7 linked regions of the Homo sapiens genome follow. The protein of the gene in region 2 purifies or fractionates together with the protein of the main gene of each other region. This does not show direct contact. Each region holds a gene or a part of one and is shown on either strand. Other genes may lie near its edges.

Region 1 (4,608 bases), on a different chromosome or scaffold from region 2:
CGATGGAATTCTGGAGAATTACCTAAAAGACGATGAAATAAATTAGCCAACAGCTAGAGGATGTGGGCGGTAGGGGCCTTGGCTCTCAGGACTTTGAGCTGTTTCACAGCAGAGGTGAGGGAAGCAATTTTTTTTTTAAGAGATAGGGTCTCAATCTGTCAACCCAGCTGGAGTGCAGTGACACAATCATAGCTCACTGCATCTTTGAACTCCTAGGCGGCACTGATCCTCCTGCCTCAGCCTCCTGACTAGCTGGGACTACAGGTATAGGCCACTACGCCAAGCTAATTTTTTTTTTAAGAGATGGGGTCTTACTATGTTGCCTAGGCTGGTCTCAAATTCCTGGGCTCAAGCGATCCTCCTGCCTTGTACTCCCAAAGCACTAGGATTCTAGGTGTGAGCCACCACACCCAGCAAGAAAGCAGACTTCTATTAACAGTTGGGCTAACGGTTTGTATACTCCCTGTTGATAGAGGCTGTTTGATGTAATCACCTATTTTCTGAATTTATTTGAGGCTCTGAGCTTGTCAAAAGGGCATGAGGAATCCAAGTAAGATTGTGTCCAGGCCAGACTCAGTGGCTCGCATCTGTAATCCCAGCACTTTGGGAGGCCGAGGCGGGCAGATCACAAGGTCAGGAGTTTGAGACCAGCCTGGCCAATATGGTGAAACCCCATCTCTACTAAAAATACAAAAATTAGGCGGGCGCAGTGGCAGGTACCTGTAGTCCCAGCTACTCAGGCGGCTAAGGCAGGAGAATTGCTTGAACCCAGGAGGTGGAGGTTGCAATGAGCTGAGATCGTGCCACTGCACTCCAGCCTGAGTGACAGAGCGAGACTCCGTCTCAAAAAAAAAAAAAAAAAAGATTGTGTCCAAGGCCGGGCGCAGTGGCTCACACCTGTAATCCCAGTACTTTGGGAGGCCAGGGCAGGTGAATCACCTGAGCTCAGGAGTCTGAAACCAGCCTGGCCAACACACTGAAACCCCATCTCTACTAAAAATATAAAAATTAGCCGGGCATGGTGGTGTGCGCCTGTAATCCCCACTACTCGGGAGGCTGAGGCGGGAGAATCACTTGAACCCAGAAGGCAGAGGTTGTAGTGAGCCGAGATCGCACCACTGCACTCCAGCCTGGGTGACAGAGTGAGACTTCCTCTCAAAAAAAAAAAAAAAAAAAAAAAAAAAAAGATTGTGTGCAAGGTCCCTTCCTTCCCTCAAGAGAACTTAGAGGCTGGTGTGTATCCCTGGGGACAAAAGAATGAGCAAAAACCATCACTTTCTAAGATATAACCAACAAGCTATATAGTTTTGGTTAAAACATGAAATCATTAGGCTAAACATGTAAGTGTCAACACAGACACCACCACTAACTTCTGGTGGAAGTTAGTGAGCCTCACCCATGTTGAGCCAATGACAGAGGTGGGCCTAATTCATGCAGAACCAGGAAATGCACAATTGTACCTAGATTCAAGCACAAAACTTACCGATAACTCTGCATTTGTTGGGACTCATATTCACATCCTTTCTCCCTCCTACTTTTTCAATCCTTTCCCTCATTCAGAGAAAACATGCTATTTCCCGACCCACTCATCCCTCTGGAAAGCAGATTCTCTGAAAGTTTGATCAAGGCAGAAAGGCGAAATGTCATACAAAGCTGGCCAGACGTGGTGGCTCATGCCTGTAATCTCAACACTTTGGGAAGCTGAGGCAGGCAGATGACTTGAGGTCAAGAGTTCAAGACAAGCTTGGCCAACATGGTAAAATCCTGTCTACACTAAAAGCACAAAAATTAGCTGGGTGTGGTGGCAGGCACCTATGATCCCAACTACTCGGGAGGCTAAGGCATGAGAATCGCTTGAACCCGGGAGCCAGAGGTTGCAGTGAACCACGATCACACCACTGCACTCCAGCCTGGGCAACAGAGCAAGACTCCATTTCAAAAACATATAAACAAAAAATAAATAAATGTCATATAAAGCTAATGATTTGTAGTTTTGCTTGTTTTTTCCAGACATGCATTCATTTTTCCATCTTCTGTGACAGCACAATATTCCCTTGGGAGAATACCCTACTCATTTCATGAGTTCAGAGGGATCTGACATCATCCTCCACACCTGGGAAGAGGCATATGCCTATTCACGACCTTAGTGATCAGCTCATGGGTGGGCCTAACCCACGATGAGCCAGTGACAGAGGTGGGCCTAATTCACGCAGAGCCAATGATAGGGTGAGCCTAACCCCCATGCTCAGCCAGTGACAGTCACGGATCTAACCCATGCTGAGCCAATGATTGGCTTAAGGATGGGCCTAACCCATACTAAGCCAGTGAGGGCCCAGGTCCAGACCTTTTGCATAGCTGTCAAAAATGAAACTCTCTTTCCACTAGGGTTGGTAAGGTAAGCCTGAAGCTGGAGGTAAGCCTGAAGCCGGAGGTAAGCCTGAAACTGCCGGTGGTCATCTTGCTATCACAAGGGAGAGCCTGCCTCAGAGTGAAGCCAAAACAGAGGAAAGCTGGGCCAAGGGATGGAGAGCCTGGGTCCTGACAATATCATTTGAACACCTAGATGCAGCCACACCTGATTTAAGGTTATGAGATAATCAATTCCTTGTCTTGGTTATACCAGTTGGGGTTAGATTTCTGCCACGCAGGAATCTTAATGAATGTATGGAATCAACGACCTTACTTGCTCAAAGTCAAAAGGGTAGAGTGGTGCCTGGCGCAATGGCTCATGCCTGTAATCCCAGCCCTTTGTGAGGCCGAGGCAGACAGATCACTTGAGGTCAGGAGTTTGAGACCAGCCTGGGCAACATGGTGAAACCCCGTGTCTACTAAAAAAACAAAAACAAAAATCAAACGGGCACGGCGGTGCGTGCCTGTAGTCCCAGCTACTCAGAAGGATGAAGCAGGAAAAATCACTTAAGCCTGAGAAGCGGAGGCTGCAGTGAGCCAAGATCACTGCATTCCAGCCTCCCAGCCTGGGCGACAGAACAAGACCCCATCTCAAAAAAATAAAAAGGGGGTAGAGTGTTAATAGCAGTCATTAACAAGGCCAGGAGCAGCATAAACCTAGGCCAAGGAGTCCCTGCTCAAGCCATAAGCTCTAATGAGCCCAGATCTCATGTAATATGTACTCATCAAACCAATTCTATAGCAACAATAGCCCAGGGCCAAGGCATCTATCAATGAGCACTGTGTGGCCATTAAGATATTGGTGGCTGGGTGCGTTGGCTCATGCCTGTAATCCCAACACTTTGGGAAGCCAAGGCGGGTGGTTCACCTGAGGTCAGGAGTTCAAGACCAGCCTGGCCAACATGGTGAAACTCCATTTCCACTAAAAATACAAGAAATTAGCCAGGTGTGGTGGCAGGCTCCTGTAACCCCAGCTACTCGGAAGACTGAGGCAGGAAAATCGCTTGAACCCAGGAGGCGGAGGTTGCAGTGAGCCAAGATCACGCCATTGCACTCCAACCTGGACGACAAGAGTGAAACTCTGCCTCAAAAAAAAAAAACAAAAAAAGACATTGGTGATACTATTGAGGGCAGTCTCAGTCCCATGGTATGGAAGGTTGTCAGCATACAATAAAGTGCGGAAGTGAGGAACCAGTAACAACAAAAGCAGAATGACTCCTCCTGAGGTTTGGAAAAAGATGTGCAAGATCCAATGTGATCAGGCCCCTGCATAGTTTTCTACACATTTCTTACCCTACCACCTCTCATTCACTTATGTCCCAGCCACACTGCCTTCTTTCTCTTCCTTGAACACCCAAGCCTGGCAGGGTGCTGTGGCTCATGCCTGTAATCCTGATACTTTGGGAGGCCACAGCGGGTAGATCACTTGAAGCCAGGAGTTCGAGACCAGCCTGGCCAACATGGTAAAACCCCATCTCTGCTAAAAATACAAAAATTAGCTGGGCATGGTGGCACATGCCTGTAATCCCATCTACTCAGGAGGCTGAAACAGAAGAAACTCTTGAACCCGGGAGGTGGAGGTTCCAGTGAGCAGAGATCCTGCCACTGCACTCCAGCCTGGGTGACAGAGCAAGACTCCATCTCAAAAAAAGAAAAGAGTAATAATAATAATAATAATAATAAAAGAAAAGAGCCTCTTAAAACACTGTTATCTTGGCCAGGAAGGTTTAAAAACTTAATCCTCAGGAAAGAAATGAATCTGAGATGCTTTAGGAGGTGCGTCTATTGTGGGGCAGGTTCTAATTACAACGGGCCAATGGGAGGGATCTGGTTTTGGATTTCAAGGACTGAGGAGAAAATAAGCAGAGAACTGGATTTGTATCACAGCCTGCAAAATCTTTCACTCCAACCAAGAGACAAAAACCACAGGAACAGCATTTCAACCAAAAACTCTTACATTTTAAAAGCAATCCTTAGGGAAGAGAGATGCTGGAAGCAAAGAAGGAAGAAGTAACAGCTGCACTTCACTTTATCATAAAACAGCAATCTTTTTTTTTCTTTTTCTTTATTATTATTATACTTTAAGTTTTAGGGTACATGTGCACAATGTGCAGGTTAGTTACATATGTATACATGTGCCATGCTGGTGTGCTGCACCCACTAACTCGTCATCTAGCATTAGGTATATCTCCCAATGCT
Region 2 (4,608 bases):
GTTCTGATGGCTTTCATAAATATATACAACTACCCAAGGGACACCTCAAACTCATTATCTACCCACAAACATCTGCTCTTGCTTTAGTATTCTGGATCTTAGTGAAGAGCAAGGGATCCTTCAGTTACGCCACCCAGAAGCCCAAGATACCTTTATCCAGTCATTCGCTTTTATTGATTCTACAAGTTAAATCTCTCTCAAATTCACATCCTGTTTTTTCTCTCCATTCTTAACTGTCACTGCCTTAATTCAGGTCTTCACTATATCTTGCTCAGATTTTGGCAACAGCTTCACCAGATCTCTGCCTCCATTCCAACCCACCTATAATCTATCTTTGTATTTCTCTAAGAGATACTTCTAAAAATCTGATTATTTTCCTGTCTACTTAATCCTACAACAGTTTAGAATTGCTTAAAGGACAGCTCCTTAGTAAAACATATAAGGCACGCTAATAATCCAATTCATATCTATCTCTCCAACTCTCACTACTGACCCTGAGGTCATTTATGCATTAAAAAAACTGCACTGATCTAGTTATACTGGTCCCAAAGGCATTATACTCTGCCATAAACCATGCCATGTTATTTCCTCTGCGTGGATACCCTAGAATCTCCTTGACTATGAGCAAGGATTGTGGTCTTCAACCTTGTACACCCAATGCCTGACATACGATATATACAATAAATGGATATTACATAACAAAATGAGCCCCTTTCAATTTTAAAATAGCACCAGATTCAAATTCCCATTTTCCTAAAAAAACCAAATGTAACTACAGTTACTCATAGTTGGAGAGACTTTATTTCAAGAAACAAAGGAAACACTTCACTTTTGCTGTTCTTTCCTTAACTACTTAAATATTTCATCAAATTTTGTATTTTTGCAGGATTGTAGAAAAGACGAATGACTGGAATACTTGAAAGAATAATTCTGAGAATACTATTCTATTATCTTCATCCTACTGTTAGGCAATCCTTGAAATTCATGTTTAATAAGTTAATAACTAATCTTCAGTGACTGAGTAGGATGAATTTTAGCTAGTCAATCAAGTTACTTAAAAAAATGAAACAGAAGTAATTTTAAGAGGCATCAGATTGGAAAAGTGAAAAGAGCACTAGAATGAGTAGTTGAATTTGCATCCCTGTACTTCTTCTAGAGAGGTATACAGGTAAGTCACAATCTCTCAGGTTCCTCTCTTCACCCATAAAATGGGGATAACAAAAGTATTATTTCACAGGGTTCTTGTGAGAATAAGTTAATCCATACAGAACAACCCCTGGAACCTACTGCCATACCACCTAGTAAGGATGGTTAGTAAGGAAGCCATCAAAGACTAATAACCAGACTGTCTCAAAGGGACTTGGGAGCCAACTTGAAAAGGCTTGCACTGGCCAAAGATGTAACAATTTAAGCATCAATAAGAATGGTAACTGCAATGGATTAAAAAATAGTAACTAGTTTAAAGGCTGCAGTTTCTGACATTAAAAAAAAATTGGTCATCTTTGGAGAATGCTAGATAACCAACTCTTTATTCTGAAAACCAGTAATAAAGAGAAAGAATCAACCAAACAGATGAAGTCAAGTTTCTCCTCACAGAAGTATTTCAACAAATAAATGAATCCAGGTGGAATGGCACTATTTGTAACCCCTAATGAATTAATGGATCTAGGTAATGATCACCAATGGCTCAATGGCTGATCACTCAAAAAAAAAAGATATTATATGTCTTCTGATAAAAAATAGGCCTATAAAATAGTCTTGCAAACAAACAACAAAACAACAAAATATATATATGTACGCCCCAGATCTAACCCAATCATCAAGAAATACAGAGAACAAAGGAATGTGTTAAACTATACCATAGGCGTGCAATCAGAAAAGTCTTGACTAAAAAACTCTATAGGATAAATGATCTGTTTTCTTCAACAAATTAAAAAATAAAAAAGAGAGGCCAGGCGCGGTGGCGCACACCTGTAATCCCAGCACTTTGGGAGGCCGAGGCAGGCAGATCACGAGGTCAGGAGTTCCAGACCAGCCTGGCCAATATGGTAAAACTCCGTCTCTACTAAAAATACAAAAATTAGCTGGGCGTGGTGGTGTGCGCCTGTAGTCCCAGCTACTCAGGAGGCTGAGGCAGAAGTATCGCTTGAACCTGGGAGGCGGAGGTTGCAGTGAGCCGAGGTCGTGCCACTGCACTCCAGCCTGGGCGACAGAGCAAGACTCCGTCTCAAAAAATAAAAAATAAATAAAAAAGAGAGATAAAAGAGGAGCCTATGGAGATTTAAGACAGGCAAAACCAAATACTGTTTACATACTTGAATGACAAAATATAAAGTAAGAAAATGATCACCATAAAAGCCAAGACTGCAGGTCCTCTGATGGGGAAGCAATTGGTAGGGAAATGTGGTAGGCTTCTGAACTGGCTGGCCAGGAACCATCTCCTGACATGGGCAGTGATTACAAGGGTGTTAACCTTTGTAAACTTATATATAATTCATTAAGCTGTACTTTTGTGCAGTTTCTCTATTTGTTATTTTTAACAACAAAAATTTAAATGGAATGATCCTAAACACAGGGACCTTATAATCCTAACTGTGCCAATCAGTGTTCTCCCCAGTTGCTATCATATTTAAACATGAAAAGTAACATTCCTAATCCTTTGGAATATATTAATAATTCTTATAAAAAGTCCACTAAAGTATTCTGAATGCACTCAATAATGTCAGCTAGTATCATCACGGTTTTGTATTTGAAGCTGAAAACCTCATACTTACTAGTTTGCTGCTGCTGCTGTGTATTAAATCCTCCAAATCCCAGTCCAGTTCCCAAACCAGTACCTAAACCAGTACTAGTTCCCGTTGTTGTGCCAAAACCAGTACCAAATCCAAAACCTTTGTTCTGAGTACCACCAAAGAGTCCTTTGAATGAAAAATTGGAACTTCGTAAGTTAAAAAAAAAAAAAAATCTGACCTCTACTTCATTTACTTCTATGAATGACTTAAGATGGCCTCTTACCAGTAGTGCCTGTGTTAGTTGGGGCAGAAAAGCTGAATGCAGAACCTGCAGTTGTAGATGTTGTCCCAAATCCTCCAAACCCACCTAATTAAAAAAGAACAAAAATAGAAAGGAAGAATCTTTTGTATATATAAAGGCAACTTCTTTTTAAAATTATTTTATAATTGCTACATATAAAATCAAAATATATTGATCTAATTTTTCCTTTCCCTACTTTCAAGATCAATTTTTTAAAAAACTATACTACCAATCAAGAAGTCAAAATGTTACAAGAAATGAACTAAGCATTTAAAATAGAAATATCACAATGTAATATATACCCTTCAATTAAAGGGGTGGTTAACAGTTACAGCTGAGAAAACACATTAAGCCTATTGCCATAATTCTAAAATGACTATGTATGTACTTTTAGAGGAGGTGTTGCAAATTCATATGCCTAGAAGATTTAGACTGATAACAGTAAAGAGTAAAGTAGACTATGTGTTTACTGATAGGTGGAACTGTTTAAAATGAATAGTTTTTTAGATCAGCAGTTCCTAAATTCCAGCAGATACAAGAAAGGTAGTTTAGCAGTGTCACATATTCCCATTTTTTACCCCAAGAGAAACAGGAAATCTGGATTTTCTATGTAAAATTTATTGGTTTTTGGCTGGGCGCGGTGGCTCATGCCTGTAATCCCAGCACTTTGGGAGGCCGAGGGGGGTGGATCACAAGGTCAGGAGATCGAGACCATCCTGGCTAACACGGTGAAACCCCGTGTCTACTAAAAATACAAAAAATTAGCCGGGCGTGGCGGCGGGCGCCTGTAGTCCCAGCTACTCAGGAGGCTGAGGCAGGAGAATGGCGTGGACCCGGGAGGTGGAGCTTGCAGTGAGCCAAGATCTTGCCACTGTACTCCAGCCCGGGCGACAGGGTGAGACTCCGTCTCAAAAAAAAAAAAAAAAAAAAAATTTATTGGTTTTTAAACCCTAATTCAACTACTTTTTTTTGCAAGGAATTCAAATGTTTTGAAAACAGCATGCCAAACATATCACATTGGCAGACTTGTTGCCAGTTAGCAACCTTGGTTTTGGTGAATTAATTTATGTCTAAATTAACTTATATTTCTACTTAGTCTCTGTCAAGACTAAGTAACTTTTCAAAGGAAGCATACCAATATACTTACCTCCAAACAACAAGAATGTGTTTCTTGAAGGAAGAGATTTGACAGATAAATGGAATGCTAGCCAATCTAAAATTGTTTTGTTATTTTTGTAACTTATTGTCAGTCTTCAGCTGATTACCAATGTGGTATCAAAAAGCCTTTCAAGACAAATGTTTGAACCATTAGTGTCGAATTATATTGCAGATTTTTTGGAATCTTCCTTTAATCTCATTTATTTCTGGTATACAACACAGATTCATCAATATTGCAATATAGAAAATACAAGAAGAAAAACATGCAACCATTTTATATTAATCACCTCATTCTGATTTGGAAAACTACTCAAGAGTAAGCTGCATGTTGCATGCAGGCACAACTAAATATTCTATTTACTTGTAGGTTCTACTGCAGTACTGCAAACTATAAACATTTTCATAAAAGTCACCCAC
Region 3 (3,629 bases), on a different chromosome or scaffold from region 2:
CTAACTTAATCACATCTGTGAAGTCCCTTTCTTGCCATATAAAGTGACATATTCACAGGTTTCTGAGATTAAGTCCCGGACGTCTTTGGAGGTTGTTATTTAGCCTACGTGTTGTTTTTGTTTGGTTGTTGTTTATTCCACATTTTGTTTTTTCCTTAGCGATTTCCCTTACTTCCTGTAAACCAGTAACACAGTGAAAAAAATGCTTTATGCAGGATCTAGTTATTTTGTCTTGGGAAATCTTTCAGATTATCTAGTCTTCTGTACTGACAAAAGCACAAGACCCCCAAGAAGTTTCTAAACAATATTAATTGGCTCCAAACCTTAGAACCAGCATCTGTAGGGTTAGGTTTATACATTTTTTTTTTTTTGAGATGGAGTCTTGCTCTGTTGCCCAGGCTGGAGTGCAGTGGCACAATCTCGGCTCACTACAACCTCTGCCTCCTGGGTTCAAGCAATTCTCCTGCCTCAGCCTCCTGAGTAACTGGGATTACAGGCATGTGCCACCATGCCCAGCTAATTTTTATATTTTTAGTGGAGGTGGGGTTTCACCTTGTTGGCCAGGCTGGTCTTGAACTCCTGGCCTCAGGTGATCCGCCCACCTAGGCCTCCCAAAATGCAGGGATTACAGGTGTGAGCCACCACGCCCGTCCCTATAAATCTTTATTTTAAAACTGTTCTTCTGGTCACTCTTAAAATAAACCAGAATTGATAGTCTCTACCCCATAACATGGTTTATATCTGGTGGGTGAGACATCATGAGAGGTCAGAGCTGACACTGAGGGGGAGGTAGGAAGGGAAGCACAAAATTCTGGCCCCTGGCTCAGTACCTGGTAACACAAGCTTTCTCGCTCTTTCCCTACACAGCCACTGGGGGCCTTCTTCCATTTCTTGGTAATCTTAAATCAGCTTTCCTGTGTGACCTTACAGGTGAATAGCGGTTTAACGCTATAGAATTAGAGGTAGTGAAAGACCAAGAGGAATTTTGCCTATCTATCTAAATACTAATTGTCTTTTCAGGGCCATCATAAAGAAAGCGCCTTTTGTATGAAACCTTTGCTGGTCCATCTCTGCCAAGTATTAAGTATGATATATAGCAGGAATCTCATATAATATTTTCTCAACTAGTTGCTCTTCAAAGGTAGGGACTATGTCCAGTTCATCATCTCATAACTCTACAGCCTTTGGCCTGTAATATCAATAGAAGGTGGTTGAATGAGACACAGAGGCCAGTGGCTTAAGGTTTTATTGATGCATTAGGGTAGATGGGGCAATAGAGAGATGTCAGAGATAAAAATAGTCCTGAAACCCCCCACAAGATGAGGACAATTCAGTACAAAGGGGTGACTTGCTCTGAGTCTTCCTGCTCCTGAGAGGGTCTGCACCGCAAAGCAGGTAAGAAAGAAGAGTTCAGGATAGAAAGCTCCTTGCAGAAATTATCTCATTGAGAAAGACCTAAAAGGGAAGCTGCATAATGAAGAGCTGATGTCCAGGGATGCACCCACTGGATTGGCCATGCAGGACAAGCCAAACTCTCTCCAGCTGTCTTCTTCCAGTACTGGACATTGGAGTCGGGGAAGTCATGGCTTGGTGCTTCTCAAGTAGGAATACAGCTCTCTAGCTGTGATGCCTCGCTTCTCTTCTGACTGGGCTGCATCCTGGCCCTGTGCTGAGGAAACACTGGTATGCAAGTTGCCCTGGTCCAGCCTGAGGATCACTGTCTCCCTTGAGTGGTCATCAACCCATTCCTCACCAACCACTGTGGGCTGTCTGTCTCCCTGCCCTTCTGTCACACAGCGCCTTGGGTGAGTGCTGCTCCACTCCTGCCTTCCTGACTCAGTGCTTGCCCCAGTCTGGGCCTGTCCTCCCGGTACTGTCTCTCCTGCCTCAGGGTTGCTCACTTGCATCCATCTTTGACCACTGCCTGGCTGCGTCTGGGTCTGTCCCTGTTCTCTAGCCCCTCCGTGGCTTACAGTTTGGCTTCTGTCCTGCTCCACAGTCTCGGTGTGTGACCCTGCCTGTATCTGAGTGTGTCCTCCTGTCACAGCCTGGCTGGTCTGGCTCCTGCCTTGACCGTGGATCTCAGTCCCTCTGTTCTGGCCATTGGTGGACTCCTGTGTCTGGGTGCTGGTGCTTCCTGTCTGGTGGCTGCTGTCCTGCTCCACGGTCTGGGTGGGTGTCTGGGTGTGTGTCCCTGCCTGTATCTGAGCATGTCCTCCTGTCACAGCCTGGCTGGTCTGGCTCCTGCCTTGACCGTGGGTCTCAGTCCCTCTGTTCTGGTCATTGGTGGCCTCCTGTGTCTGCTTGCTGGTTCTTCCTGTCTGGTGGCTGCTGTCCTGCTCCACAGTCTGGGTGGCACCTGCCTGGGTCTGAGTTCCAGATCCAGTCACAGTCTCACCTGTCTGGTGGGCTCTGTCCTGTTCCCTGGTCTGTGGCTGTCTCTCTGGCCTCATCTCTGTTGTCTGATTCCTCTTGCCTTCTCCAGCTTTCTGGGTCTGCTCTGTCTGCCCAGAGAGTTGTATCTGCGGGCTTATTCTTTCCTGGCTCTGGGACTCAGCTTGCCTGTCATAGCTGCTGACCCACGCAGAGCCAGTGGCCTGACCCTGGGTCTGAACCCCAGGCCTGTTCTGCCCTCTGGAACCCTGCTGGCTCTGTCTGTGGCTGCTCCCCTCATAATGCTGCCCTTTCCCCGCCCTTCCCACTTCAGTGCCACTTCTCTGTCCTTCGCCCAGCTCCTGCGAGGCCCCAGAGTGGAGGCTTCCAGACTCTTGAGAGCCGCAGGCTCCCTCAGCACTCTCGCTCAGTGTCTTGAAACAGGCCTGGGCAACTTTAAACACTAAGACCAGGAATTCCTTGAATTCCACAGTCCCTGTGTGGTCTTCATCCAGCAGACGCAGGACCTCATCCACAGTTGCTGGATCGTGGGGTTTCTGAGGAGAAGATGAGGTGGAGTCAGCATCCCTCCCCTGAGGAGGACATGGGCAGGTCCCTTCCAATCTGCTGCCAGCTTCCCCTGCCTCAGACCCCACACTACACACACATACGGCTAGAGCAGCAGCAAGACTTAATTGCCTTTATTTTTTTTTAGTCCCGTCTCTCTCCCTCAAGTGTAGAGAGCATTTTTTGTTTGGTAGCCTCTATTTGGCACAATTTCTGGGCTACAGGAAAATTAGATAAAGATTTATTGAAGAGTTAATAAATTATTGAATTCACAATGCAACTGTTTGGGCTCTCAAGTTGACTGTCTGGGCTGCCCTTGGCACCTTGCCCCTGGCACTGAGGCCTTAGTCTCTTCAGCAGGCCCAGCACAAAGAGCAGCAGGTTGGGAACACAGCCCCATGGGAATTCTGTGCGCTCCTCATTGAGGCCCAGATGTTTCCCCATGATAAAGAGGGAGGGAAGCAGTGGGCCCCTGCAGCGCTGCCCTGAGCATGTGGATGCAGCATCCTTCTGTGCCCATATGTCCTTGTCCCTAAGGCCATCATCATCCTGGTTGCTTTAGATGCAAACCAAAGACAGGAAAGTGCATCAAGGCCTTGGTTCTGGTTTGCCAGGTGGGGTGGGGTGAGGCTCCAAAGTCTCCCCCTAGCTATTAACAACCTGCTCTTCAAAATTTCATTTCTGATGTG
Region 4 (4,608 bases), on a different chromosome or scaffold from region 2:
TTTTAATTGCCATTTAAATAGCCACTGTGGCTAATGGCTATGATATTGGAAAGTACAGTTCAGAGTACTGAGAAGTGTGGAGATTAGTTTTCACTCTCAAGGAAAGGTAAGATGCTGGAATGTGCAGTTACAAGGCTAACCTAATGATATTTGCAAAAGTGCTGCAGTGGATGACTCCTGTGTTGAAGAGAAGAACTGCAGACCCACGGTGGCTGCCTACTTCGTGTCTCCACTTCAGGATCTGCGAGAAAATCAAGCTCTGTATGTCCAAAGCAGCTGAACATACTTGGAGACAACTCTTCCCTCACAGTAGCATTTCCTTCTTCCATTTTATCTTCCATATAGCCAGAGTGATTAAAAAAAAAAAATCCAGGTTTATGCAGGTATAATTGTAGAGTTTGTTGGGTTTTGACAAATGGATGTAGTCATGTAACCACTGCCGTAATCATGATGTAGAACGTTTCCATCACTCCAAACAGTTCCTTGGTCCCCCTGTGTACTCAATCTCCATCCCTTATCTCTGGCAGCTGCTGATGGGATTTCTATAACAAATGGAATCATGTGATATGATGTGTAGCCTTTTGAGTCTGGCTTTCATTTTTGTTTTGTTTTGTTTTGTTTTTTGAAGGGACAGAATCTTTCTCAGTTGCCCAGGCTGGAGTGCAGTTGCACAGTCCTTGCTGAGTGCAGCCTCCAGCTCCTGGGCTCAAGTGTCCTCCCATCTCAGCCTCCTGAATAACTGAGTCGACAGGCATATGCCACCAGGCCTGGCTCTTTTTTTTTTTTTTTTTTTTTTTGAGACAGAGTCTCACTCTGTCACCAGGCTGGAGTGCAGTCGCACGATCTCGGCTCACCGTAACCTCTGCCTCCTGAGTTCAAGCGATTCTCTGCCTCAGCCTCCTGAGTAGCTGGGATTACAGGAGCCCATCACCACGCCTGGCTAACCATCTTTGCCAGGCTGGTCTTGAACTCCTGACCTCACGATCCACCCACCTTGGCCTCCCAAAGTGCTGGGATTACAGGCGTGAGCCACTGTGCCTGGCCAGTCCTGGGTAATTTTTAAAAATTTTTTGTGGGGGTGGAATCTGGCTGTTGATGCCCAGGCTGGTCTTGAACTCCTGGCCTCACACAGCCCTCCCACCTTGGCCTCCCAAAGTTTTGGGATTACAGGCATGAGCCACCACCCTACCTGGCGTCTTTTGCTTAGCCTAGTGCTTTTGAGATTCATTCTTGTTGTTGAGCCTATCTGTTAGTGCATTCCTTCTTCTTGCTGAGTAGTGTTCCAGTATATAGACTGCAATTTGTGTATTCATTCACCTGTTTATGGACATTTAGTTTTTTTCCAGTTTTTAGTGACTGAAGAAAGCTGCTATAAGTAGATAAGTATCAAGGCCAATTTTTATTTATTGATTTATTTATTTTTCTTTTTTGAGACAGAATCTTGCTCTGTTATCTACGCTGGAGTGCAGTGGCACGATCTCAGCTCACTGCAAGCTCCGCCTCCCGGGTTCACGCCATTCTCCTGCCTTAGCTTCCCGAGTGGCTGGGACTACATGCGCCCGCCACCACACCCTGCTATTTTTTTGTAGTTTTGGTAGAGATGGAGTTTCACCGTGTTAGTCAGGATGGTCTCGATCTCCTGACATCGTGATCTGCCCGCCTCGGCCTCCCAAAGTGCTGGGATTACAGACGCGAGCCACCGCGCCCGGCTGCATTGTCTCTTTCTTATAGATTAAGAAGAGTGTAAAAATTTTTCTGGATTCCAGTTCTGTATGGTTATATATATTGTAAATCCATTCTCCCAAGTTGTAGCTTGCCTTTTCATTCTTTTTATGGTATTAAAAATTTTTTTTTAATTTAAATTAAAATTTTTTTTTTGAGATGCGATCTCGCTGTTACTGTGGCTGGAGTGCCTATTCACAGTCACGATCATGGTGCACTGCCTCCTTGAACTCCTGGTCTCAAATGATCCTCCTGGTTCTGCCTCCCAAGTAACTGTGTCTGTATTTGTGAGTTACCACTCCCAGCTATGTGCTGTCTTTTGATGAACAGAACTTTAATTTTAATGCAGTTAAATTTATGGATTATGCTTTTTCAGTCTTGTTGTTTTTGTTTTCAGACAGGGTCTCGCAATGTCGCCCAGGCTGGAGTGCCGTGATTTTGAATCAGTGCAACCTCTGCCTCCTGGGCTCAAATGATCCTCCTGCCTTGGCCTCTTAAGTAGTTGGAAATGCAGGCACACACCACCAGGCCGGGCTAATGTTTGTATTTTTTATAGAGCCATGTTGGCCAGGCTGGTCTCGAACTCCTGGGCTCAAATGATCCACCTACCATGGCCTCCCAAATTCTTTTTAAGTCTTCTTAAGAAAAATGTTTAGGCCGGGCTTGGTCGCTCACACCTGTAATCCCAGCACTTTGGGAGGCCAAGGTGGGCGGATCACAAGGTCAGAAGATCGAGACCATCCTGGCTAACACAGTGAAACCCTGTCTCTACTAAAAATACAGAAAATTAGCCAGGTGTGGTGGTGGGCACCTGTAGTCCCAGCTACTCAGGAGGCTGAGGCAGGAGAATCGCTCGAACCCAAAAGGTGGAGGTTCAGGGAGCCAAGATTGCGCCCTTGGACTCCAGCCTGGGCGACAGGGTAAGGCTGCGTCTCAAAAGAAAAAAAAAAAAAAAGAAAAGAAAAAGAAAAACGTTCGTATCCTAGATTCATAAAGAAATTCCTCAATATTTTCTTTTATCTTGAAATTGAAAATGAATCATCTCAGCAGAAAGTATACTCTCTTCTGACCTAATAATGGTTGGTGATTTATTAGTCTCAGCATTGCAACAGCTTTGCCACAAAGATAAAGATTGAGGACTGTGTTTTACTCTAATAAAAACTAAAATAAAAAAGCACAACTCAAATTATTTGGCTAGGAGCAAAATTATAAGTAATTAATAATCTGTGTGTTTTTCTGGAGCAATCCAGCTTCGGTTCCTACTTTTTTAGTTTCATACAATGTTCATTTTGAAAAACTATAGAGATGGAGGGGCAGAATAGGACTTTTTGGTGTAAGTGACTATTAATATGTATACTGTGAAATATTTTTTCTTTTTTAAATAAATTTATATATGTGTATTTTAACATCGAGATGGGGGTCTCACTGTGTTGCCCAGGCTGGTGTCAAACTCCTGAGTTTAAGTGATCCTCCCACCTTAGCCTCCCAAAGTGCTGTGATCACAGGCATGAGCCACTGCACCTGGCCTATTTTTTTTTTCTAGAAAATTTAATATAAAGATGTGGTGATGAATGGGAGAAGAACAAAGACGTTAAGGATTTCGTGCCAGACTGTGTTAAGATTTAGGTTATGCCACCTGTCTTCCATGTGATCTTGGGCAAGTTACTTCCTTTCTAAGCTTCAGTTTTCTTTTTTAAATTTTTTTTTCTTTTTTTTACTTTTTTTTTTTTTGAGACGGAGTTTCACTCTTGTTGCCCAGACTGGAGTGCAGTGGCATGATCTCGGCTCAGTGCATCCTCCACCTCCCAGGTTCAAGCAATTCTCCTGCCTCAGCCTCCCAAGTAGCTGGGATTACAGGCGCCTGCCATCATGTCCGGCTAATTTTTTGTATTTTTAGTAGAGACGGGGTTTTACCATGTTGGCCAGGCTAGTCTCAAACTCCTGACCTTAGGTGATCCACCCGTCTTGGCCTCCCAAAGTGCTGGAATTACAGGCATAAGCCACTGTGCCCAGCCTTGTTTTTTTTTGTTGTTTTTTGAGACAGAGTATTGCTGTCTCCCAGGCTGGAGTGCAGTGGCGCGATATAGGCTCACTGCATTCTCCAACTCCTGGGTTCAAGCGATTCTCCTGTCTCAGCCTCCCGAGTAGCTGGAATTACAGGTGTGTGCTGCCATGCCTGGCTAATTTTTGTATTTTTAGTAGAGACGAGGTATCGCCATGTTGGCCAGGCTGGTCTTGAACTCCTGACCTCAGGTGATCCACCGACCTTGGCATCCCAAGGTGCTGGGATTACAGGTGTGAGCCTCTGCGCCCGACTGACTTCCTTCATTCATAAAACAAGGATAGTAGTGCCTACTTGTGTTGGGGGTTCCCCAGGCCATGCCAGGCTCAGTGACTTATAAGGAGGCTTCACAGTCATATTTGCAGTCATTACATATTACAGCAAAAGGACACAATGCAGAATCAAAGGGAAAAGGCAAATGGCATGAGGTCAGAAGGAAACCAGGCCGAAGCTTCCCAGAGTCCCCTCACTGTAGACGCACACAGTATATGCTTAATTCCTTTCGTGTGTAACTGGAACAATGTGTGAGAGACATTGTGTACCAAGGAAGTTCATTAGGGACTCAGTACCCACAATTTCTATTTAGGGCTGGTCATGTAGGCACCGTCTGCCTTAACAGGTACCAAAATTCCAGACCTTCAGAAGGAAAGTAGGCACTCAGCGTAAACTACGTCGTTTGTACATACAGTTGAGGCACAGGGAGGCTCTCTTACTAGTTAAGGAGCAGTGGAACCCTCCTAAAATCCACGTTCTAGATAGCAGCCAAGAGCCACCCTTGCAAGCAGGCCTCGCAAGGATAGTAGTAGCCTCATGCCCGCTGTGCC
Region 5 (4,608 bases), on a different chromosome or scaffold from region 2:
GAGACCGGGTCTTGCTCTGTCGCCCAGGCTGGAGGGCAGTGGCACAATCTCAACTCACTGTACCCTCTACCTCCCGGGTTCAAGCAATTCTCGTGCCTCAGCCTACCAAGTAGCTGGGATTACAGGCCTGTGCCACAATGCCCAGCTAATTTTTGTATTTTTCTTATAGTAGAGATGGGGTTTCACCATGCTGTCTCGAACTCCTGGCCTCAAGTGATCCACCTGCCTCGGCCTCCCAAAGTGCTGGGATTACAGGTGTGAGCCACTGCACATAGCCCCTATATATATATGCCTAATAAGACTGTTCAGTACGGGTGAAAGGGTTGAAAAACTAACTATTGGGTACTAATAGTTAGCCACTCAGCACTTGGGTGATGGGATCAATCGTACCCCAAACCTCAGCATCATGGAATATACACGGGTAACAAACCTGCACATGTAGACCCTGAATCTAAAATAAAAGTTGAAAAAAAAATAGAAAGTCTCTCCAATACAGATTCTCGAGTTGAGTTACATGCCTCAGAATAAAGATACTAAAAATAGTGAAAACTTTATTTATTTATTTATTTATATTATTATACTTTAAGTTCTAGGGTACATGTGCACAATGTGCAGGTTTGTTACATATGTATACATGTGCCATGTTGGTGTGCTGCACCCGTGAACTCGTCATTTACATTAGGTATATCTCCTAATGCTATCCCTCTCCACTCCCCCAACTCCACGACAGGCTCCTGTGTGTGATGTTCCCCTTCCTGTGTCCAAGTGTTCTCATTGTTCAGTTCCCACCTATGAGTGAGAACATGTGGTGTTTGGTTTTTTGTCCTTGCGATAGTTTACTGAGAATGATGGTTTCCAGCTTCATCCATGTCCCTACAAAAGACATGAACTCATCCTTTTTTATGGCTGCATAGTATTCCTGAAAACTTTATTACAAATAAAAAGCAGCCACTGAAAGATATAAAATGAATATTCTGTGAAAAATTATAAAATTTGAGAATGCTATTCTAGCTTAATGTATAACAATAATACATACTATATCTACCCCAAATTCAAAGTATTCTGAGTTCTGCTATTAAAACAGAATTTTGAATTTTACTGGTGACTAAACAATGTTTATGTTTCCCCTTGTGAATATATATATCTTTGAAATAGAAAATTAGAAAAACACTGAATTTTTCCAGTTTCTAGAGTTTAATCCTTTGTGGGAGGTGGAGAGGAAAGAAGAAAGAAACAGAAAAACTATGTTTTCAGAAGGTTTTATCCATCCTTCCGAGTAAGCCTAATTCTTTTGGTCTTTAAAAACTTTAAGTATTGTGTAACTCCATCCTTGTACGTTTTCTCCTTTCAACACTGGGCCTTTGGCTGATTTTCAGGGACTTGTAAAAGCGAGAAGAGAGGAAGCAGAAAAGAAAATGGCAGAAGAGAGTAAGAAAGACTTTGCATTTGAGATAGCCAGAACAATTTCACACATAGCCTGGTTATCTGGTAGCAAGCCATAAAGGTGCTAGTATAATTTAGAGTTTGTATGCATCCACTGAAGCAAACAGGATAAGATATACCTAATGAACACTTATCATTCTGTTCTGTTTCAAAGCTACAATTTGTAAAGTAGTAGAAAGTTTGGATTTGACATGTGTTCATCCTGCTGAAAATTTTGTGTCCACTTTAGTAATTACAACCCCTTGTACTTAATTCAACCTTCAGCTGCAATACATTTCTCTCAGGTTATCACAATAATATTCTGATGAAGTTATGAAGATTGATACTGTTATTAGCTTATTTATAAATGGGAAATATTAATGCAGAGAGAACTGAGACAAGTACCCAAAGTCCCAAGTAACAAAGTCCAAGTCACAACTCTTATCCCTTGAACAGACCACGTTCCTGCCACTTCCATGCCTTCAACAATGCTGTACTCCTCCCTCGGAATACCTCCTTTGGATTCCATCTACCCAAACCCTGCCCCTCATTCAAGGCGAGGGGCACATGGTAGACTGGAAAGAGGACTAAATTTTGGTGCAGAAGCCCTCAGTAAAAAGTGCTGCTTCACCTACTTAAGTATTAGCAATGTGCCTTTGGACAAGTTATTTAGTCTCTACTCACCTTAGTTTTCTTGCATGTAAAATGGAGTTAATATCTGTTCTATTTCAGAATGCTTAAGAAGGAAGCAACTAAGAGAATATACATGGAAGCCCATAGTAAACCATTAAGAGCCACATAAAAGACATGTATTAGTGAAGGTCCAGTTAAGTTCTACGTAAGCCACGGAGCTTTCCAGCCTTTTAATCCAGCCTCCTTTGGCACTTGAACTCTCCTTTGGCATTTCCAGCTCCACTATTTATCTGAGCACTTGATAAACTCTGTCCTGTATTGTTGCTTAAATACCTCTGGGTCAGGAACATCTTCCTTCCGCAGAGCCTAGTGCAGGGCTGTGAGCTCAGTAGTGCTCTTTATTATCAATGCTACAAATGAACTGGTGGAGCTGAGAGTAGAAGCTGACCCTCCTGGGACCACATGCTCACTTCTTTTCTTTTTTTTTTTAATTAAAAAAAATATTTTTAGAGACAGCATGTCACTCTGTCACCCAGGCTGGGGTACAGTCATATAATCATAGCTCACTGCAGCCTCAAACTCCCAGGCTCAAGGGATCCTCCTGCCCTGGCTTCCCAAGTAGCTATTTTTTTTTTTTTTTTAAAGAGTTGAGGGCTTGTTATATTGCCCGGGCTGATCTACAACACCTGGCCTCAAGTGATCCTCCCACCTCAGCTTCCAGAGTAGTTGGGACCACAGGCATGCACTACTACACCCGGCTATTTTTCTTTATTTTTTGTAGAGATGGGTCATTTCTATAAGAAAAGTTTTTAAAAGCTTCCCTGTGGTATGTAGTTATATTTATGCTCTAATAAGGATACTCCCCGAGAGGCAGGGTTTTCTCTTTAAAAGAAGAGGGTTCACCACATATACTGCTTGAAGAGATAAGAGCATAGCCCAATGACAGATAAGATCCCAGGTGCTCTCCAGGCTAGGGGAATCCCACCAAGAGTTGCCCAAGAGGAAAACATTTCTCCCCATGTACTCCCCTTAGGTTAAGAAGATGTTATAGGGAAAAATCTTACTGGAAACATTTGCAAATCAGGCAGTCCTTGTTTGATTTCTACGGGAAATAAGACATCTTAAAGGTTTTCCATTTCTCCTGGGGGAAGATATACTCTACGTATAAAAATACTTTCCTCAGGGGCTCTTAGTAGCTTTCCCACACAAAGCAATCTGCCAGTAGCGCTTTACCTGATCTTTGTCAACTAGTGTGCTGGGGCTTGGCCGTGGTTTGTCTTTGAATGAGTAAGTAGCCACTTGCTTCTTTAACAGGTCCAGGAAGTCAGGAGGCATATACTGCGGAAGATCATTTAGGACTGGATTGTTTCTTTGCACAAGAGGTGGCTTTTTCCTTCCTTCGTTTTTAAAATTGTAGGTTGCTATCACTGGATTTAATAGGGATTCTTCAATAAAAGTTTTCAAGTGGTAAGTGCCAGGTATAGGAGTATCCTGTGGAAAATTGACATCAGTTTTAAGATTGTGTAAACATGTAACTTCTCCTAAAACACCATTCTTGGATGGGAAGCTCCCAAGTAACATCTCTCTTTGTTTTCAAGTTTAATGAAATTATATCAAATACAGTAAACACTCTTGACAGAAGAGTATTTCAAAATCATGATTATTTCCTTTCTGAAATAATTGCTGAATTAAAGCAAACGGGTTAGAGTTGAAATTTAACTTTTTTTTTTTTTTGAGACAGAGTCCCACTCTGTCACCCAGGCTGGAGTGCAGTGGCACAATCTAGGCTCACTGCAAGCTCCGCCTCCCAGGTTCATGCCATTCTCCTGCCTCAGCCTCCCAAGTAGCTGGGACTACAGGCATCAGCCACTACGCCCGGCTAGTTTTTTGTTTTGTTTTTTTTTTTTTTTTTGTATTTTTAGTAGAGACAGGGTTTCACTGTGTTAGCCAGGATGGTCTAGATCTCCTGACCTTGTGATCCGCCCGCCTTGGCATCCCAAAGTGCTGGGATTACAGGCGTGAGCCACCAGGCCCGGCCGAAATTTAAGTTTTTAAAAGGCAACTTCGGTGATTCAACTTTGGGATTCAAGCTTGACTATGAATTTCAGACCTCTAGTGAGACCACTCAGGATAGTCTCTTGGCTAACTAGAAGCTATCCTACATCTGCTTAGCCAATGTAGGATGTTTCTCTCTAGCCCTCAAGTGGGAAGCTGAAGGATAATGACATGACACCAGGATAAACTGGCAGAGCATATGGCCTAGTTAGTCCAATAAGAGGTTTGGTACTTTCAAATTACAACCAGTGTGGCTGAATGGCCAGAATTGAACGTTTAGTCACTGCTGCTTTTGTGGCCATCTTTCCACTGAGCACTCAGCTCAGTTCTGCCTTTAAAATTACTGCAATTCCAAGAAGGCTTTGACCCATGAAGTCCCTCTATTATTGAAGGGCATTGACAGAAAATATGTCTGTAATATAGAAACTCTCTGGTGAGGGGGATCTTCTGGTCATTTTTCTTCCATATATTACCATTTTGCTTTCATATATTGACCAT
Region 6 (4,608 bases), on a different chromosome or scaffold from region 2:
CTGAGCCCAGGAGGTTGAGGCTGCAGCGATCTGTGATCATACCACTGCACTCTAGCCTGGGCAACAGAGCAAAACCCTATCTCAAAAATAAAATTAAATTAAAAGGATATAATACGTACCTCATGGAGCAGTTGTGAGCATCAAAAGAGAAGCTGTACATGAAAGCTAGAAGGTCTGGGTCTTATCTCACCATGCTAGATGTAGGCCACTCCCACCACAAGACTCTGCCTCCTGCAACCCTTATCTCACCTCAGCACCTAGCTCTGGGGGTTGTTCTCTTTCCCCTCCCCAAAAGGGCAGCTGCCTCACCTTGGCCTGCAGCTTCCTCACAAGGGTTGCTTGTCTCTGCTGGGCCTCCTGGGAGTTCTTCAGCTTCCGCCAGGAGGCTGCCTGATTCTCTGCCATCTGCTGCTGTAGTGCCAGCACCTGCTCTTCCAGTACCAGCTGCAGTGACTGGGGCTTCATGTTGTTCAACCCAGGGCTTCTTGTCTCCATGAGGGCACCAGGTGGTAGGCCCACAGGTCCCTAGGTAGCCAGAGGGTGTTCACGCCCAGCAGGGTCTCTAACCATTGCCATGCCACTTCAACCTCCTCTTGAACTGGGGACCAAAGCACATAGTCAAATGGAAAGGACTGTTCTTTTACTACACACAAGACTCCTCAGAACCTTTAAAATACTAAAAGGGACCCTCATCTCTGAAGGGCGCTATGATGAGCATCATTCCCCAAATTTAACTGACCATGAGACAAGCTCACAGGACTAGTGTCTCCTGGCATGACTTTTGGAACTCTGCACTAAACCAAGAGCTCCTGGTTTATCACTGCATCCTTAGTTCCTGGCACAGTGGTTCAGAAACATTTGTTGAATGAATCGCTGAAGGTGTTCTTAGTCTAGCAGGGGAAATAGACACAAACTATTACAATACATACAATGTAGCATGTGAAATAATAAGATAATATGAGAAAACAAAGGAAGAGAACCCAGCCTGGGAGCCTGTGAACTGTGTGAATCATCATCATCATTGTTAACACTTGCTGAGTGCTTCTGGAGGGCTGTTGCTTTAAGTGCTTTACATGCATTACGTCATTTTGTTTTTACAAAAATCTTGAAACCTTCCAATGCCTTCTCATTACACTTCACCAAACGTACTATTATAACTCTTTATATATAGATGAGGAAACTGGGGCTTAGAAAGGTTAAAAAACTTGTGCCAGGCCACACAGCTGGCATATGGTTGAGAGAGATTTGAACACAAGTAGTCTATCTGACAAAGAAAAGGGGTAGCAGGCATTTCAGGCAAAGGATCCAAAAGAGAGAAGGAACCAGTGGCAGCAGGATGGCCAAACCCCCTCACCCACCAGGAGCTGGGCCAAAACAGGGCAATGGGCCACCACAGGCAGAGGCGGCCAGCCTAACGGTGACCTTCATCAGAGATACCCAGGACAGGGGAAGGCATGGTGGTAAAGAGTTCTGGGTGTTAGTCCAAGCTCTGCCTCCAATGGGCTCTGTGACCTCAGATGTGCTACTTCCCTCATCCAGAAATGAGGGTATCATGACCTCTGAGTTACTTAGGCCTCTAAAACACACAATTATCCCATAACCTGGGCCAGAGGAAGAGTTCTCTCATTTTATTAACCCTAAGACTCTCACCAGCAGGGCTAAGGAATATCCGTATTTTCAACTACCTATCAACAAAATGGTATATACAGCGAATGCAAACCTAACATTTGCACATACAGTAGAAATTTCAAGGGCCCCAAATCCCTTTAATGCACCAAACTATTGATTTCCCACATCCTGGCTCAAATGCCACGTCCTATCATGTCCTCCCAGATGAACCCAGGAAGAGTTAGTCACTTTTATAGCTATATACACAGAGAGAATACATATGTTCTGATGTCTACTCTACATCTTATCATCATTACTTGTCTATTTTCTCTGCTAATCCATGAGTACCTCAAAGGCAGGAGCTGTCTAATTCATTTTAATTGTAACTTGTCAACAATGTCCAGTGAAGAAATGCATGTGAGCCTCACTCCTGGCAGAGCTAAGCCATAAGCCAGAGATGACAAATCAGTGCCCTGCTAGCTCTTTTCAGCCATTGTGTGGCCCACATAATAGTTTTTAAGAATTCAAATTAGGTGCCAACATTTATCATTGGGAGAATGTACATAAAATCCATATTTCTGGCTCCTTTGGAAAATCAGAATACCCAGTGATGCTTGACCCATATTTCAATAAGGCAACAACCAGCTGCACAGTTGAATAGTGCCTGCCCGTTTAGACAGGGCACGCGCTCCGTGCAGTTGAACAGCGCCTGTCTCCTTTAGACAGGGCGTGTGCTCTGCACAGTTGTATAGTGCCTGCCCCCTTTAGACAGGGCATGTGCTCTCCAGTTCATCATGGCCTCCCCTATGCACACACCGATTCTCTCCCTCACAATGATAGCATATTTCAGTTGTCATTTATCATTGCAACTGTGCTATTGTTTCTGTTATAGTAGCATTAAAGAGGAAAACTCGGCTTACTAATTTACATTACCTCCTGAACAACCGAAGATACTTGAGTTTGCAGAGCCTGTACTAGGCAGTAAGGAAAGTGCATAAAGTAGGGAGAATAGAATGGCACCAATAAAGGTTTGGTGGCACCAGTACTCCAGGCCTCTTCCTAGCCTACGAACCAGGGGAATACAACCTTTCCCCATACTATTACACCCTCCTTTTCAGCCTTTTTGCCAAGGCTGTGTGACCAACTCACCATGGTGCTATGAAATGTTGGCTCTGTTGAGTTCAATGAAGCTCAATCCCTCTCTGCTGGTTGGAGGCACAGATCTTCCAGGAAACTATTCTCTTATCCCAGGATTTCTGCCAACAACTCTACCTACAATAATGTAGATCCAAGTTACTCCAAGGGAACTGAGGAGCCTTTTCTCTCCTAGTATGGTGAGGGCTGAGCCGGGCTTTTGCATGCAGTGGGAGTTTATGAGGTCTCAAAGGCCCCCTCACACTTTGTTGAATCCCTATCCCAAAACATTAGGTTGAACCATATGAAATTGCTAATATTATCCTATTATTATTATTATTTTTAGAGAAAGGATCTAGCTCTGTCACCCAGGCTGGAGTACAGTGGTGCAATCATAGCTCACCGCAGCCTCAAATTCCTGGGCTGAAGGGATCCTCCAGCCTCACCCTTCAGAGGAGCTGAAGATGTGTGCCACCGAGGCTTTTTTTTTTTTTCTTTGGTAGAGACAAGGTTTTGCCATGTTGCCTAAGCTTGTCTCGAACTCCTGGTTTCAGACAGCCACCCCCTGGTCCAAGCCTCCCAAAGCAATGGCATTATAGGTGTGAGCCACCAAGCCCAGCCTCACTCATTACTTTTTATCTACAAAAATGGCAATTTCACATCATTCAACCTAATATCTCTAATAAGCAGTCCTGCCACACATAGTTCCATGAATTCTCATTAAGTTTTCTTTTAGGATATGGCTGTCAGTAACTTGCAAACATGATTTGGCAAGGTGGTATTAGTAATACTTAAGCAAATAAAGAAAATTATATTACAATTATATAATTATTTTACTTTAGCAGATAATTAAAAAATTTTAAAGCTATTTAGAAATTTAGTCCACCCCCCTCATCTTGCAGATAAGGAAACTGAGGCTTGTAGAGATAAAGCAACTTCATTTTGTTTATATTTTTATATGCCCCACTTATCTCAAAAAATGATTTGCATGGCCAGGCACAGTGGCTCACACCTGTAATCCCAGCACTTTGGGAGGCTGAGGCAGGCGGATCACTTGAGGTCAGGAGTTCGAGACCAGCCTGGCCAACACTGTCCAGCCTGGGCGACAAGAGCAAGGCTCCATCTCAAAAAAAAAAAAAAAAAAAAAAAAAAAAGATTTGCATTATAGCAAATATACCATACTAAAAGGGGAGACTGGGTGCAAGGTATACAGGAACTCTCTGTACTATGCAATTTTTCTGTAACCCTAAAATTGTTGTAAAAAATAGTTTTAAAAAATGATTTAAAGTTTTTTAAAACCAAAACAATCCTCATAAAACTAAAATTTATTAAAACAAGAATAAAAGAGAAGAGACAGAGAAAAATTATCTCAGGAATCTTTCTGAAATTCAGATTTCATTCTGAGCTTCCTCAAGACACAGTTCAGCATCCTTTTACAAACACACTGCCAGATCAGATCTGCTAGGAATAAACTAGCAGAGCCCCCAAAGGGAAAGTAAATTTCAATGTGCCTGAGAAAGGGAAAAGAGCAGTAGCTGGCAAACTAACAAATTGGATTACATCTAAATAAGATAATGAGTGTCAGTGTACTTCTAAGCTGTAAACCACTGAGCCAATGTTATCATTACTGCAGGAAAAAGGGAAAGATTCATTTCTTTTGTACATTAATTTATCCCATAAACACTCATGAATTTCAACTCAGTATCAGGAGTCTGCCACAGTGGTACAGAAATGAACAAGACCTACCTTCCTACTTTTGCTAAGGATCAGACAGGGAAGACAGCACCCTTACTAAAGACCAACAGCCACCTGTGAACCTGGAGTGGAAAGTGACAGAAGAGTGAGATAAATTATGTATTTGATCCT
Region 7 (3,351 bases), on a different chromosome or scaffold from region 2:
TATTCTAGTTAGCAATTTGTCTAACCTGTTTTCAAGGTTCTTAGCTTCCTTGCATTGGGTTAGAACATGCTCCTTTATAAAGCTCGGAGGAGTTTGTTATTACCCACCTTCTGAAGCCTACTTCTATCAGTTCGTCAGACTCATTCTTCATCCAGTTTTGTTCCCTTGGTGTTGAGGAGTTGTGATCCTTTGGAGAAGAGGCATTCTGGTTTTTGGGATTTTCACCCTTTTTGCATTGGTTTCTCCCCATCTTCTTGAGTGTTTCTACGTTTGGTCTTTGAAGTTGGTGACCTTCAGATGGAGTGTCTGAGTGGATGTCCTTTCTGTTGATGTTGATGCTATTCCTTTCTGTTTGTTAGTTTTCCTTCTAACAGTCAGGCTCCTCTGCTACAAGTCCACGGGAGTTTGCTGGAGGTCGACTCCAGACCCTGTTTGCCTGGGTATTAGCAGCAGAGGCTGCAGAACAGCAAAGATTGCTGCCTGTTCCTTCCTTTGGAAGCTTCATCCCAGCAGGGCACCCACCAGATGCCAGCCAGAGCTCTCCTGTATGAGGTGTCAGTTAGCCCCTATTGGGAGGTGTCTCCCAATCAGGAGACACGGGGGCCACAGACCCACTCAAGGAGGCAGTCTGACCCTTAGCAGAGCTCGAACCCTGTGCTGGGAGATCCACTGCTCTCTTCAGAGCTGTCAGGCAGGGATGTTTAAGTCTACTGAAGCTGTGCCCACAGCCACCCCTTCCCCTGGGTGCTCTGTCCCAGGGAGATGGGGGTTTTATCTATAAGCCCCTGACTGGAGCTGCTGCCTTTTTCTTTTCAGAGATGGCCTGCCCAGAAAAGAGGAATCTAGAGAGGCAGTCTAGCCACAGCAGCCTTGCTGAGCTGCGGTTGGCTCCACCCAGTTTGATCTTCTGAGTGGCTTTGTTTACACTGTGAAGGTAAAACCACCTGCTCAAGCCTCAGCAATGGTGGATGCTTCTCCCTCCACCAAATTCTAGTATCCCAGGTCGAGCTCAGACTGCTGTGCTGGCAGTAAGAATTTCAAGCCAGTGGATCTTAGCTTGCTGGGCTCCATGGGGGTGGGACCTACCGAGCCAGGCCACTTGGCTCCCTGGCTTAAGCCCCCTTTCCAGGGGAGTGAACAGTTCTGTCTCGCTGGCATTCCAGGTGCATCTAGGTTATGAAAAACAAAAAACAAAAAAACTTCTAAAGCTAGCTCAGTGTTTGCCCATACAGCCGCCCAGTTTTGTGCTTGAAACCCAGGGCCCTGGTGGCGTAGGCACAAGAGGGAATCTCCAGGTCTGCGGTTTGTGAAGACTATGGGAAAAGCACAGTATCTGGGCCGGAGTGCACTGTTCCTCACGGCACAGTTTCTAATGGCTTCTCTTTGTTAGGAGAGGGAGTTCCCTGACCCCTTGTGCTTTCTGGGTGAGGCAACACCCCACCCTTTTTCGGCTTGCCCTCAATGGGCTGCACCCACTGTCCGATCAGTCTCAATGAGATGAACCGGTTACCTCAGTTGGAAATGCAGAAATCACCTGCCTTCTGCATCGATCTCACTGGAAGCTGCAGACCTGAGCTGTTCCTATTCGGTCATCCTGCCAGCAATCTCCAAATTATTTATTTTATTGCTCATGTCATCAGTTTGATATACAGTTAATTTTCTTCAATTTGATTCAATTTTTTAGGGATTCATGTTTTTCCATTTTAATTTTTTTACTTTTTTTTTTTTTTTTTGAGACAGAGTCTCACTATCTCCCAGGCTGGAGTGCAGTGGTGCGATCTCGGCTCACTGCAAGCTCTGCCTCCCGGGTTTACGCCATTCTCCTGCCTCAGCCTCCCAAGTAGCTGGGACTACAGGCGCTCGCCACCACACCTGGCTAATTTTTTGTATTTTTAGTAGAGACGGGGTTTCACCGTGTTAGCCAGGATGGTCTCGATCTCCTGACCTCGTGATCCACCCGCCTCGGCCTCCCAAAGTGCTGGGATTACAGGTGCAAGCCACCGTGCCCGGCCAATTTTTTCACTTTTTAATTATGTACAACAATAGTTGAAACCATACATATACTCAGGAGTGGAATATAATTAGCAAATATTTTCTTCAGATTGTTATTTGTCTTTGTTTATGGTGATTTTTTGACATGTGTAAGTCATTCAGATATATTTTTATGTAGCTAAATTTATTAATATTTAACTTGCTTTTGGAATTTGGGCTTTATTTATGACAGTTTTTCTGTTTCCAGATTAAAGAGGAATACATCATTAATGACAAGATATGAAATGCAAATGCACACATTAAAAAAACCCTAAGTATCATTAGCCTTTCGGGAAATACAAATCAAAACTACCATGAGATAACATTGTATAGATAGATAACATCCATTTGATTGATTAAAAAGGAAATATATGGATATATCAAGTGATGTAAAGACTGAGGAATAATTGGGATTTTCATACACTGCTGGTAAACAATAAAAATAATATACCCACACAAAAAATAAAAAAAGGAGGAATACATCTATTTTTAATTCAAATATATGGTATGAGTCATTGTGTTTAGATCTTGCATCCATCTGGAAATTATTATTTAGTAGTATTTTATTTTAAAATATCAGATGCTTTTTTTCTTCCCAGATGCTGTTTTAGATATTAGAGATATAATGGTGACAAGATCAACAATATCTAGTTTCTCTCAGAGCTAATGTTCCTGTAAGGGGAGACAGCCCACAAAGATGATTTTAAATAAAGGTAAATGCCATAAAGACGGTGAAAGAAGATGATGTGACAAGGAGGGACTGAAGAGATGCCTCTCTGATAAGATGATATTTGAGTGATTCTTGCATCACATGAAGAGGACAACTATATCAGGCTCTGGGACAGAACTATCCAAGCCAAGGGAATACTTAGTACAAAGGCACTGAGGAGCAATAGCCCCTAACACTTATTAAATGTTTACTATGAACCAGACACAATGCCAAAACACTTCCTCTGCATTATCTCATTTATTTCTTACAACTACCCTTTGAATTAGGTAACAGTAATCATCCTATTTTGAATATGAGGACACTGAGATTGAAAGGGCCTCCTCTCAGTCTCCAGTGTAGCTTTCAGGGCTCAACCTGCAACAGTGAATTCCTGATTTTATCTCTCCAGGCTTTCATGAGAAGGACAAGAAGCCATATTGCCGAAAGGATTTCTTAGCCATGTTCTCACCCAAGTGTGGTGGCTGCAATCGCCCAGTGTTGGAAAACTACCTTTCAGCCATGGACACTGTCTGGCACCCAGAGTGCTTTGTTTGTGGGGTCTGTATAATCACTTTTCTTTCGGACTTAGGGAAAGTCAAGGGTTCTCCTCT

Evidence for each region.
Region 1: the proteins of NUP54 (region 2) and NDE1 purify together in Homo sapiens (affinity purification with mass spectrometry; 2 studies listed by BioGRID and IntAct, with this or other methods). This does not show direct contact.
Region 3: the proteins of NUP54 (region 2) and CRNN purify together in Homo sapiens (affinity purification with mass spectrometry; 2 studies listed by BioGRID and IntAct, with this or other methods). This does not show direct contact.
Region 4: the proteins of NUP54 (region 2) and WDR59 purify together in Homo sapiens (affinity purification with mass spectrometry; 2 studies listed by BioGRID and IntAct, with this or other methods). This does not show direct contact.
Region 5: the proteins of NUP54 (region 2) and STPG4 fractionate together in Homo sapiens (co-fractionation; one large-scale study listed by BioGRID). This does not show direct contact.
Region 6: the proteins of NUP54 (region 2) and CEP250 purify together in Homo sapiens (affinity purification with mass spectrometry; 2 studies listed by BioGRID and IntAct, with this or other methods). This does not show direct contact.
Region 7: the proteins of NUP54 (region 2) and LPXN purify together in Homo sapiens (affinity purification with mass spectrometry; 2 studies listed by BioGRID and IntAct, with this or other methods). This does not show direct contact.

The regions. Positions count from the first base shown.
Region 1 is NC_000016.10:15,656,004-15,660,611, reverse strand, and holds part of NDE1 (nuclear distribution protein nudE homolog 1), read right to left. Parts: intron 1-4,608. UniProt on the Homo sapiens protein: Required for centrosome duplication and formation and function of the mitotic spindle. Essential for the development of the cerebral cortex.
Region 2 is NC_000004.12:76,141,375-76,145,982, forward strand, and holds part of NUP54 (nucleoporin p54), read right to left. Parts: exon of another isoform or gene 4,181-4,608; intron 3,100-4,180; coding exon 3,016-3,099; intron 2,919-3,015; coding exon 2,775-2,918; intron 1-2,774. UniProt on the Homo sapiens protein: Component of the nuclear pore complex, a complex required for the trafficking across the nuclear membrane.
Region 3 is NC_000001.11:152,408,014-152,411,642, forward strand, and holds the end of CRNN (cornulin), read right to left. Parts: intron 2,931-3,629; coding exon 1,581-2,930; 3' UTR 1,230-1,580; downstream 1-1,229. UniProt on the Homo sapiens protein: Promotes cell proliferation, G1/S cell cycle progression and induces expression of the cell cycle regulator CCND1. Regulates proliferation induced by pro-inflammatory cytokine response via activation of NFKB1 and PI3K/AKT signaling pathways.
Region 4 is NC_000016.10:74,974,510-74,979,117, reverse strand, and holds part of WDR59 (GATOR2 complex protein WDR59), read left to right. Parts: intron 1-4,608. UniProt on the Homo sapiens protein: As a component of the GATOR2 complex, functions as an activator of the amino acid-sensing branch of the mTORC1 signaling pathway. The GATOR2 complex indirectly activates mTORC1 through the inhibition of the GATOR1 subcomplex.
Region 5 is NC_000002.12:47,147,970-47,152,577, forward strand, and holds part of STPG4 (protein STPG4), read right to left. Parts: intron 3,547-4,608; coding exon 3,289-3,546; intron 1-3,288. UniProt on the Homo sapiens protein: Maternal factor that plays a role in epigenetic chromatin reprogramming during early development of the zygote.
Region 6 is NC_000020.11:35,458,255-35,462,862, reverse strand, and holds part of CEP250 (centrosome-associated protein CEP250), read right to left. Parts: intron 4,560-4,608; 5' UTR 4,489-4,559; intron 2,881-4,488; 5' UTR 2,758-2,880; intron 599-2,757; 5' UTR 496-598; coding exon 310-495; intron 1-309. UniProt on the Homo sapiens protein: Plays an important role in centrosome cohesion during interphase. Recruits CCDC102B to the proximal ends of centrioles. Maintains centrosome cohesion by forming intercentriolar linkages.
Region 7 is NC_000011.10:58,527,990-58,531,340, reverse strand, and holds part of LPXN (leupaxin), read left to right. Parts: intron 1-816; coding exon of another isoform or gene 817-911; exon of another isoform or gene 912-2,768; intron 2,769-3,149; coding exon 3,150-3,298; intron 3,299-3,351. UniProt on the Homo sapiens protein: Transcriptional coactivator for androgen receptor (AR) and serum response factor (SRF). Contributes to the regulation of cell adhesion, spreading and cell migration and acts as a negative regulator in integrin-mediated cell adhesion events.